2 separate regions of the Homo sapiens genome follow, and region 2 is reported to be linked to region 1. The links are microRNA targets in miRTarBase. Many come from high-throughput screens and were not tested one by one. Region 1 holds a microRNA gene; the other region holds the end of a gene's coding sequence.

Region 1 (5,000 bases):
GAGGGAGACTGATTTTTTTTAAATCATGCTCATCATCATCATCATCATCATCATCATCATCATCACGTTCCTTATCATGGTTATCATTTCCTCCTGCCAGGTGGAGCGACCACCAGCGCCGGCTCGCCTCCTGCGCCTTCCCCAGCGAAGGCAGCAAGCAGTTCGGGCTTGGCCGTGGCGGCCGCTCCCAGGATGCTTCCTGCACCTCCAGCATCCCCCCCCTTATTCATCTGCCTGTGTATTATCTCGATCCTTTTCATTTCAGTAGATCCACTGCCTTTGGTTGGGCCGGCTGAATCGCTGGGGACTGCGGCCAGTCTCTTAAAAAAGGAGAACAAAAAGCCGAAGACCTTGTGTGGCCGCCGGGACAAAGCACCTTGGGTTCGGCGAGAAGGGACGCGCAGGAGCGCTGAACCCAGAACACGCGTGGCCGCTGCGGAAGGGCGTCCGCCCGGCGTGCGGAACGCTGAGGGTATTCGGATTGTCTTTTATTTGTCCCTGTGGCTTGCTTTCACAGTGTCTACGTAGGAGAGGGGTCGGGGTTGTTGGGGTCTCTTTTTTTTTCTGGGAGGGGTAGCTGAATTGTGGGAGACCTAGGTGGACTTGACTTGGCTTTCCTGCTACTCTGCGTCTCCTTCTCAAGATGCGGGGGTTGGAAAGGGGACAGGGGACTCAAGGCTTAGAAAAGAGAAGGAGCCCTCTGCTGCCTGGAGGGCTAAGGGAGTAGAGAGTGGAGATGGAGGTGAGTAGGGATGGGCCAGCCCGAAGAGCACTGAGGAGGAGAAGGGGTCTTCTCCTCCCTCGGGTCCAGTGGATGAGTTTTGCTGGGAATGAGAATTCGGGTGTCTGTCGATAGGAGCGCTGAGAAATTGATGAGAAATTGACATGTCCGTGCACATGCATGAGGCGGCGACAGGATTTGTGTGTAAACAGTGTGGAGAGGTGGAGGAGGGCATGGGGGTGGGGGCTTAAAATGATGTCTTATTGTCCTTTTGGCTTTAGGGACTCTCATCCTCTGTCTCGCCCCCTTTTTTTGACCCGGGGATCCAGCCGCATTATACACGAGTGACCTTTTAAATCTACGTCCACCCTTTACCTGGTAAAGCCCGCTGACAGTTGGGGGTGGGGTGGGGAGAGTGTAGGGGTGCTCTCTCCCTCTCTCCCTCCCTCCGCCTCTCCTCCCTCCCTCCCCCCTGCACTCCTCTCTCTTCCTCCCTCCCACCTCCCTCGCTCCCGCCCTCCCTGCTGCATTTTGCATGAGCTATCTAGGTCATTAGCATTTTAGCGTATGCAAGACTTGACAAAGCTGATGAGGGGCCAGATGGGCCTCGCTCTTATGGTTTTTTTTTCTTCTTCTTCTTCTTCTTCCTCTCTCTCTCTCTCTCTCTGTCTCTCTCTCTCTCGTCTCTCTTCCTTTCCCCCCTCCACCACTTGGGACCTGAGCGAGAGGACTGCAGCAGGCGAGTTCCGGAAGGCTGAATCCCCAGGTCCCAGCCCCGGACCGCGGCAACTCGCCCCTGCGGCACGCCCGGCCCGGCTGCGCCCCCACTCAGCGATGGAGGTAAAGAGGCGGCGGCCGCGCGCCCTGCCCCGGCTGCCGCTGCCGAGTCCCCGCTGCTCTCCTTGTCCTTCGCTCTCTTCTTCCTCCTCCTAGTCCCCTTCAGTTTCCTGGGCGAAGCAGAGGGCGACATGGGTGGGTGGGTTGCTGCGCTGGGGCGAGGTGGGGTCGATGTTGTTTTTTCATTGTCTGGAGCTGCAGGGGAGGCGAGGCGCGGGGAAAGGGGCGAGGGGAGCCGGGGTAATTAACACGGGGGAGGCACCCCTCCGTCTCCCACTTCCACCCACACCCCCATCCCTCCACCCCCTCCGCTTTGCAGGAAAAAGCCTGGATGCGAAAGGATGGGGGAGAACAAAGAGCCTTTGGAAGACGTCGCTGTTATCTCATTGTCTGTGTGATTGGGGGAGCTGCGGCGGGGAGGATGCTGTGGTCCCTTCCTCCGGCGTTCCCCACCCCCATCCCTCTCCCCGCTGTCAGTGCGCACGCACACGCGCCGCTTTTTATTTCTTTTTCCTGGTTTTCTTATTCCATCTTCTACCCACCCCTCTTCCTTTCTTTCACCTTTCCTTCCTTCCTTCCTCCTTTCCTTCCTCAGGAGAAAGGCCTCTCTCTCCGTGTTCACAGCGGACCTTGATTTAAATGTCCATACAATTAAGGCACGCGGTGAATGCCAAGAATGGGGCTGGCTGAGCACCGTGGGTCGGCGAGGGCCCGCCAAGGAAGGAGCGACCGACCGAGCCAGGCGCCCTCCGCAGACCTCCGCGCAGCGGCCGCGGGCGCGAGGGGAGGGGTCTGGAGCTCCCTCCGGCTGCCTGTCCCGCACCGGAGCCCGTGGGGTGGGGAGGTGTGCAGCCTGTGACAGACAGGGGCTTAGAGATGCAAACAGACTCAGGGAGAGAAACAGAAGCTGATTCTGTGACAGAAGCAGATCTGTGCAGCACAGATGCGGTGTGCGTGGGGAGGGGGTCGCCTGGGAGCGCATTGCGGAGTGCTTGTGTGTGCAGATTTTTCTCTGGGCTCAGGACTCATTGTATGTGGGTCAACACCTTCCTCCGTGACTGTGTTTTTGTTCTGAGCTGAGTTTTTTGGTTTGCCCTTAAAAAAATAATAATTTGGCATCCAGAGACTGGCAGACTGCCTCAGGGCCTGGACTGCGGATATATTGTGTTCTGCTTGAGGTTTGGGGAGGAGGGCAGGCGGTAGGAAGGGAGAGGGGGAGCTGTTTGTCACACTTTGCTGTAGAGCTGAGAGCACCTGACAAGCTTAAGGAAGTCGTTGGGCTATGTGGACAAGAAGGAGCCAGCTCCCAGCGGGTTCACAAGCTCTATCGGAGTTGAAAGCGTGGTCATGGCTCTAAGGAGCACCTCACGCCCTCCCTGTAGCTGTTATTGCAGTTTCAGGCAGAGATCCAGGAGCTGCAGAGGAAGGGAGAGGCACAATAACCTACATGGACCCAAGGGAGACATGTGTTCCTTTAAAAATGTGAACAGAAGGAAAAACAGAATGTGTGCAACTGGGGGTCTGAGGAAAGACTGTTTTGAAAGAGGCTGTCAGGGAATGGAAAGGGTTAAGCTTTTCATCCTGAAGAACCTGCTTCCCAAATCAGGCCTTCCTCCCATCACTAGACCCTGAGCAGCAGCTGGTCCTAGAGACCCCCCTCGTACTGCGCTGCCACAGTCTCATCCCATTTCCAGCTCTGTATTAACCACCAAGCTGCAGCGGATGGGGCAAGACCTAAGCTCATTAATTTCCAGGTGGAGGAAATGGAGGAGGGGCAGGTCCCTGCAGTAGAGGGAGGAGCAGAGAAAGGAGGCCAAGAGCTGGATCCTTCTGCCCAGGAAGCCTGCTGCATCCCTTCCCCCGAGCATGGCAGAGGCCTGGCTTTGCAAGGCCAAGGCCATAAGGGATGCTTAGGAGATTAATTTGATTCCTGACACAATAATCAAGCCCTAAGAGTCTCCACTGAAGCTTACTGAGGACTTCTTTCCTCTCCAAAGCCTCAGTCTAGCCTGCTAAATAAATTAGTATTCAGTGATGCCTTGGATCAGGGCCCCTCCCCGGCCTCAGTTTCCCCAAATATTTATTAAGTACCTACTGTGTGCAATCCTTGTGTAATTATTAACTCTTAGGCTCTTCATTTGCCCTCCTAAAGCAGTGTTTAGAGTCAGGCAGAGGTTAAGTGTGTTGCACCTCACCTAGATACTTCCAGAACCTTCTCTGGGTCTGCAGAATGTGGCACAACCTGCTTGCCCCCGCAGAGAGAAAGCTGCAGTGCACATCCTGCAGACTGCAGGTGCTGGGCTGCCTCTGGAGTCCCAGAAGGCAAGCTTGGCTGCAGGACAGAAAGGGAGAACAGCTTCTCTCACCCCTGAGCCTTCACAAGCCCTTGTCTATTTGCCGTTGCCTTCAAAATATACCTCCCCCGAAACCAGTAGCTTTCTGAGTCCTGGTGTCCCCTCCGCCCTTTCTGGACAGGTTTGGGAAGAAGAAAGCAGTCAGTGCTGGGCCTTATTGGGGTGTGAAGCGCCTTGCTCTGCCCCTTCTGCTCACTGTGAAGGCCGCTGGATGCTTCTCTTAGGCATGGTTTAAGCCTCCGATTACTAAACCCCTTGCCCCACAAACGTCCACATTGACGAGCCTCTTTTTAGTAACTGCTTCCCCGTAATTCCTTCAGAGGTTGCTGTACCCTTCGCTGATGTGCTGCCCTCCTGTAAAACCTCCAGATGCCTTCCCACGTAATGCCCCTTTCAGATGCTTTAAGCTGAGAGCTTAAACCACAGGTACCATGGCTGACGCCTGCCAGGTTTCTGCTGCAGATAATCTATGATGGGAGGGGCATATTTTTTACTTCATTACTTATGTAAACTCTTGTTCCAGAAAGCTTTAATGTGTGTGGGAGTGTTCTGGGTCTATTAGGTCTGTGCGCATGGGTGTGGGCATTTGCCTGTGTCCACCGGGTGGGTCTCATTATGAAATGTATGTTTATGTAGGGCTTTAATGGCTGAAAATGGCAAAGAGATGAATAGACCACTTGGCCCCATGTGTAATTGCCAGGCCCCTTCTGTGCTCAAATGAGGTGTCCGAGTGAAGGTCAGCCCTTCCCTTCTGTATTTGGGGCCTATTTATGCCACCAGTAATTTTATAAGAAATCTGAATAGTTCTCCCCTTTGAGTGCATTTAACTCTTTAGTATCTTCTCTCTTACCTATTTGAGCCCCTCTAGCTACAGTCTGGCTTAAATGAAAGGGGAATTATATGCTTAAGAAAAAGTAGGACACGGTTGAGGCAGTTTGCTGACTGAATACGCGAAGAAGGACCTGATGGGCTCATATGCACCACTGCCATCACAGTCCCCATCGTGATGCAAGCTTATATGATTCTTGAGGTAACTCTACCAGATACTTCCAGATTTAGAAATGTGTCAAAGGAAAAATTGGTGATAC
Region 2 (5,083 bases), not on the chromosome of region 1:
TGTGTCAGAGGTCCCTGCCCTCTGCTCTCTGCCAGCTCACAGAGAAACAGGCATTCTCCCTTCCAGGTGCTCCTCATTTGCACTGAAGAGGTCAGTCAACTCCTAGGACATCTGAAAGGGAAACCCTGACTCCAAGGGTTATATTGTGTTCTGGATAATAGAACTTGCCTTTCTGTAGAGCAGGTTTTCTCAACCTTGCCACTACTGACATTTTAGTCCACATAATTGTTAATGGGGGCTGTCCTGGGCATTTTAAGATGTTTTGCAGCATCCCTGGCCTCTACCTACTCGATGCCAGCAACACTCCCTCCAGTTGTGACAACAAAAAATGTCTCCAGACGTTGCCAAATGTCCCCTGGAGGGCAAAATTACCACCAGTTGAGAACCACTGTGATAGAGAAAGAACAGTTTTTTGTTTTTGTTTTTTTGAGACGGAGTCTCCCTCTGTCGCCCAGGCTGGAGTGCAGTGGCATGATCTTGGCTCACTGCAAGCTCCGCCTCCCGGGTTCACGCCATTCTCCTGCCTCAGCCTCCCGAGTAGCTGGGACTACAGGCGCCCGCCACCACGCCTGGCTAATTTTTTTGTATTTTTAGTGGAGACGGCGTTTCACCGTGTTAGCCAGGATGGTCTCGATCTCCTGACCTCATGATCTGCCCGCCTCAGAAAGAACAGTTTTTAAACACACCAACCAGTGTCCTCTCCCTCCCTCCAAGAGGGAAAGATCAGCTTTCCAATATACAATCAAGCTGGCCTGAGTGGGCCCACTTAGTCCACAACAGGCATTTTATCTTGGCAACAATGCAAACCACAACAAACAAACAAAAAGCCACACGGTTTACTCTGGTGAAAGAAAAACTGAAAGGCATAAAAAGAAAACTAAGGAAAACAGAGGTAAGAAAATTTGAAGGTAACAGCAACAATGAATGAGAAATCATCTTTGTAAGTTCCCGTTTGTGAGCTGACACATCAGCCATGGCTTCCCCACATTCGTGACTCAAACACCAAACATGAGGCCACAGCTAACTTCTTGGGGTCTAAACTCCAAACCCAGTGTTTTCAGGAAATGTCCCTAAACCAAAGTCCATCTCATTATATGAAAATACACATAGATACACCCAACTTTACCCCCCACTGTTTTATTAAATCAGACAGTTTAAAGTGTATGTTCTGGTATTTTTAATTTTCTTACTGGGTCCATTTTACTTAAAAAAAAATATAAAACATTTTTAATGTATCTTAGAAAAATTAGCAAAAAATTGAGAAAGTTGAGCATATTACATTGTACAATGTTTTCATACGAATGTTTTAAAATCATAAATATTTGGTTTCCCCTCAACATAGCACATCACAAAAATACATTTCAAAAACTTTTTTCATATATAATTCCTGTAAATGATCATATCCCTACTTATTAAGGAAAACACCTGATGACAAGCACTCAAACACTCTTGAAATTTTCTGTACAGTAATTACAAAAGTAAAACCAAGAGTTCTGTTGGCCCTTTAACAGGTGAAACCATTTTAAATAGTATCAAAATATAATTCCAAATGGGATATACTTAGTTCATTTCTGTGCTATCTTTGATTCACAAGTATCTATCTTAGCCAAAGCACTGTTTAAAAGGATATTGCCTCCTAGACATAGTGCCACTGAAAACCAAGATGTAAATCGGTAACACTATGCATTAAACAGAAAGCTTTTGCACAACCACATATGTAACCGCTTAGTCGTATCAAGGTCCACATGTGACCAGAAAGCAGGCAGTCCTTAGGTGGATGGCCAGGGGCCAGGCAGTGTGAGGTCTCCAAGAACCCAGGGCTAGAGCAGCTAAGCCCCAGGTCATGTTATCAGCTACAGCTGTGGAATAAGCCAGGTTTAAAGAAGGACATTCTGCAAAAGTGCAGGACCTATTTCACAACTTCTAGAAGTAGAAATTCACATATTCCATCATGATCCTCCCCACCATGCAGAGACTATTTGACTCCTAAGGCCACACTGTTTCCATCCCATAGATTTCACAGAGGTGATTAGGTTCTTTGTAGAATACTTTTTCCTCATTCTGGAATGAGGGATACTGGAGTCTTCTGGTGTAATGTGCAGTCAAACCACAGGAAAGGTTCCATTCCTTACCTAAGTCTCGTTGGTCTAATACACCTGCCAGCTACTGAATAAAATGATAATACTGATAAATGGCTGGGCAGAAATCCAACACCCAAATCAGCTGTCAAATTTCAAAGGCACATGATACAAAAATATTTTAGACAATACACTTTATAAAGGCAACTATAAGAAACCGTTAAAGTTACATTTTTATTAAACAGCCAAAAATCTTAAGACAAATACCTACAGACCATTTCTTCATTGGCAAATATTTTCCAGTCATAAAAGGTGATAATTTATGGGATTATATTCCAGTTTCCTCTCATGTAAATAAATACATACACTGAATCTCTAATACCACTCTCTCTAGATGTATACATCTATTTGGAATTGCTTTCTTAGTATGCACTCAGCAAGCACTAGCATAAGAACACCTGAGGTTCTCTGTCCTCATTTAATACCTGTAAGAGAAAAGGACTTTATTCTACTGAATTCTGCCCTTTTTTTGCAACAACTGAATTATCCCCATATTTATTTACAATTTTAAGCTTGATTGCTGTCCACGGAGTTACTGTTGCTTCTCAATTATAACTAGTGTTAGAAGGCTTGATTTCATAAATGTTCTTTTTAATCCAAAGATAGATCATATATGAAAACCTTCCTCAATACTCCTTTCAAATCAGATGCATATAAACTATGATCCCAATTTCCCTGTTAGACGTATTTCTGTTGGATATTTCCTCCGTTGTCACCACAGAGGAAGGGAAAAAGCAGAAAAGCTGCCCACCTAACAAAGGCTAACATAATGGCTAGGCTAATATATTGACATGCTATCATCTTTATGATGTTTTGAATCTAACTAGCAGACATACAGTCAACTTCCTGTTGACCATGTGCATCTAATCTGCTTTCTTAATTATACAAATAATTTTTATTTCAAATTAGCTTCTTTCTACTACTCAGTATAATCCTCTCACAGCCTGGCATATACTTGGTAGCACATCATTCACTAGAGAGAGTACGAGAGAAAATTAGGTTGACAATATGGGGCAAAGGGGTAGTCTCCTTTAAGGTGAGGGGAAAGGAGATGGGAATGAAACATGCCAAGTGTATGATGGTTAGGGAAAGAAATATCTTAGTAGAAGCTAGAAAACCTCTACTAACAGGATCACATTCCAAAAGGGCAACCAGGAAATGGCAATGACTCCATGACTTCTCTGTCAGAGCACCAATGGTCAAAGGCATTCCATGTCAAGTGTCAGGAAATGGAAAGCGAACCGGCCAATCTAGTTTAACAGCACATACTCGGAAAAGGAAACACGCTGCCAAAGGAAAGAGCTGACATCCAGTCCACAGAGGTTCTGAGTACCCAGTGGCAGTGAGCCCCTCCAAACTCTGCAGAGCTGACTGTGCTGTCTGCACCCTGCCTCATTTGGGGAAGAATCTGAGAGAGCTAAAAGACAAATTTCAGAAGGTGATGTTTTCAAAGAAAGAGTAAACAAACAGCTTGACAATGTTGACTTTTTTTTTCTTTTCAGGTAACCCTTGTTTGCAGGAAGATAAATAAGAAGGCTTCCTTAGGATACTGACCCACTTAGAGAGGCACAGAAGGAAGAAGAGTTAAAAGCAGCAAAGCCGGGTTTTTTTGTTTTGTTTTGTTTTGTTTTGTTTTGAGATGGAGTCTCACTCTGTTGCCCAAGCTGGAGTACAACGGCATGATCTCAGCTCGCTGCAACCTCCGCCTCCCACGTTCAAGTGATTCTCCTGCCTCAGCCTCCCAAGTAGCTGGGATTACAGGCGCCCGCCACCACGCTCAGCTAATTTTTTTTGTATTTTTAGTAGAGACAGGGTTTCACCAGGTTGGCCAGGCTGCTCTTGAACTCCTGACCTCAGGTGATCCACCCGCCTCGGCCTCCCAAAGTGCTGGGATTACAGGCGTGAGCCACCACGCCCGGCCCCCAAAGCTGTTTCTTTTGTCTTTAGCGTAAAGCTCTCCTGCCATGCAGTATCTACATAACTGACGTGACTGCCAGCAAGCTCAGTCACTCCGTGGTCTTTTTCTCTTTCCAGTTCTTCTCTCTCTCTTCAAGTTCTGCCTCAGTGAAAGCTGCAGGTCCCCAGTTAGTGATCAGGTGAGGGTTCTTTGAACCTAAGAGGCAAACATGCTTTAAATACAGGAAGTATTATATTCTTCAGGATACCCCATCATTTTTCTACAGACAAAATAGTAACTTCCCTACTTTATTTCTTCTTTGAGGAACATGCATAAATGTCATACCAGCTAAAACAATTAGAAGATGTATACCAAGGGGATTAACTGGGCCCTCTTACCTATTAGGGGATAAGATTTTCAAGAGAAATTTATCCTGAACAGCTTGGTTTTTTTACATTTGGGCTAAAAAAGTTTCTTTAGTACAATTCAAATACACAAGTGAAACAGAAAAATAAATTTAAAAATAAATATATGGGCAGGGCGTGGTGGCTCACGCCTGTAATTCCAGGACTTTGGGAGGCTGAGGCGGGCGGATCACGAGGTCAGGAGATCAAGACCATCCTGGTTAACACGGTGAAACCCCGTCTCTACTAAAAATACAAAAAATTAGCCGGTCGTGGTGGCGGGCACCTGTAGTCCCAGCTACTTGGGAGGTTAAGGCAGGAGAATGGCATGAACCCAGGAGGCGGAGCTTGCAGTGAGCCAAGATCGCACCACTGCACTCCATCCAGCCTGGGCGACAGAGCGAGACTCCATCTCAAAATAAATAAATTAATTAAATAAAATAAAAATGAAAAATAAAAATAAATATATGATTACTTCATAGAGTCTGTTACCTGGTTCTATCAGTCGAATTAATCCTTCATGATGGGCCACTTTGTCCTTCCAGCTCTTGGTCTTATTAGTTGCCATCTCCAGCTTCTTTTTAACTTCCTGAAACAAAAGTGGATTTTGGACTATGCAGACACACGGGTAGTTTAAGAACCAA

What was found. Region 1 holds the annotated microRNA hsa-miR-124-3p (UAAGGCACGCGGUGAAUGCCAA, at 2,211-2,232, shown strand). A microRNA usually pairs through its seed, bases 2 to 8, with sites in the 3' UTR of a target mRNA and lowers its output. Matches are read on the target gene's strand: a 7mer-m8 pairs with bases 2 to 8, a 7mer-A1 pairs with bases 2 to 7 and ends in A, and an 8mer does both.
Region 2: the mRNA of SWAP70 is a reported target of hsa-miR-124-3p. Seed matches in the 3' UTR shown: 7mer-m8 at 2,237-2,243.

Annotation. Positions count from the first base shown.
Region 1 is chr8:9,900,631-9,905,630 of GRCh38, reverse strand. MIR124-1 (microRNA 124-1) reads left to right here and starts at 2,159; the gene lies at 2,159-2,243. MIR124-1HG (MIR124-1 host gene) reads left to right here and starts at 2,302. Exons shown (of 3, transcript NR_024281.1): 1 at 2,302-4,942. LOC124902057 (a long non-coding RNA gene) reads left to right here. Exons shown (of 4, transcript XR_007061170.1): 2 at 269-472; 3 at 1,003-1,099; 4 at 1,444-1,561.
Region 2 is chr11:9,749,032-9,754,114 of GRCh38, reverse strand. It overlaps SWAP70 (switching B cell complex subunit SWAP70), which reads right to left. Exons shown (of 12, transcript NM_015055.4): 11 at 4,932-5,028; 12 at 1,122-4,251. The coding sequence ends at 4,145. Among named protein-coding and RNA genes, the nearest start is that of SBF2-AS1, 6.7 kb to the left of the region's middle.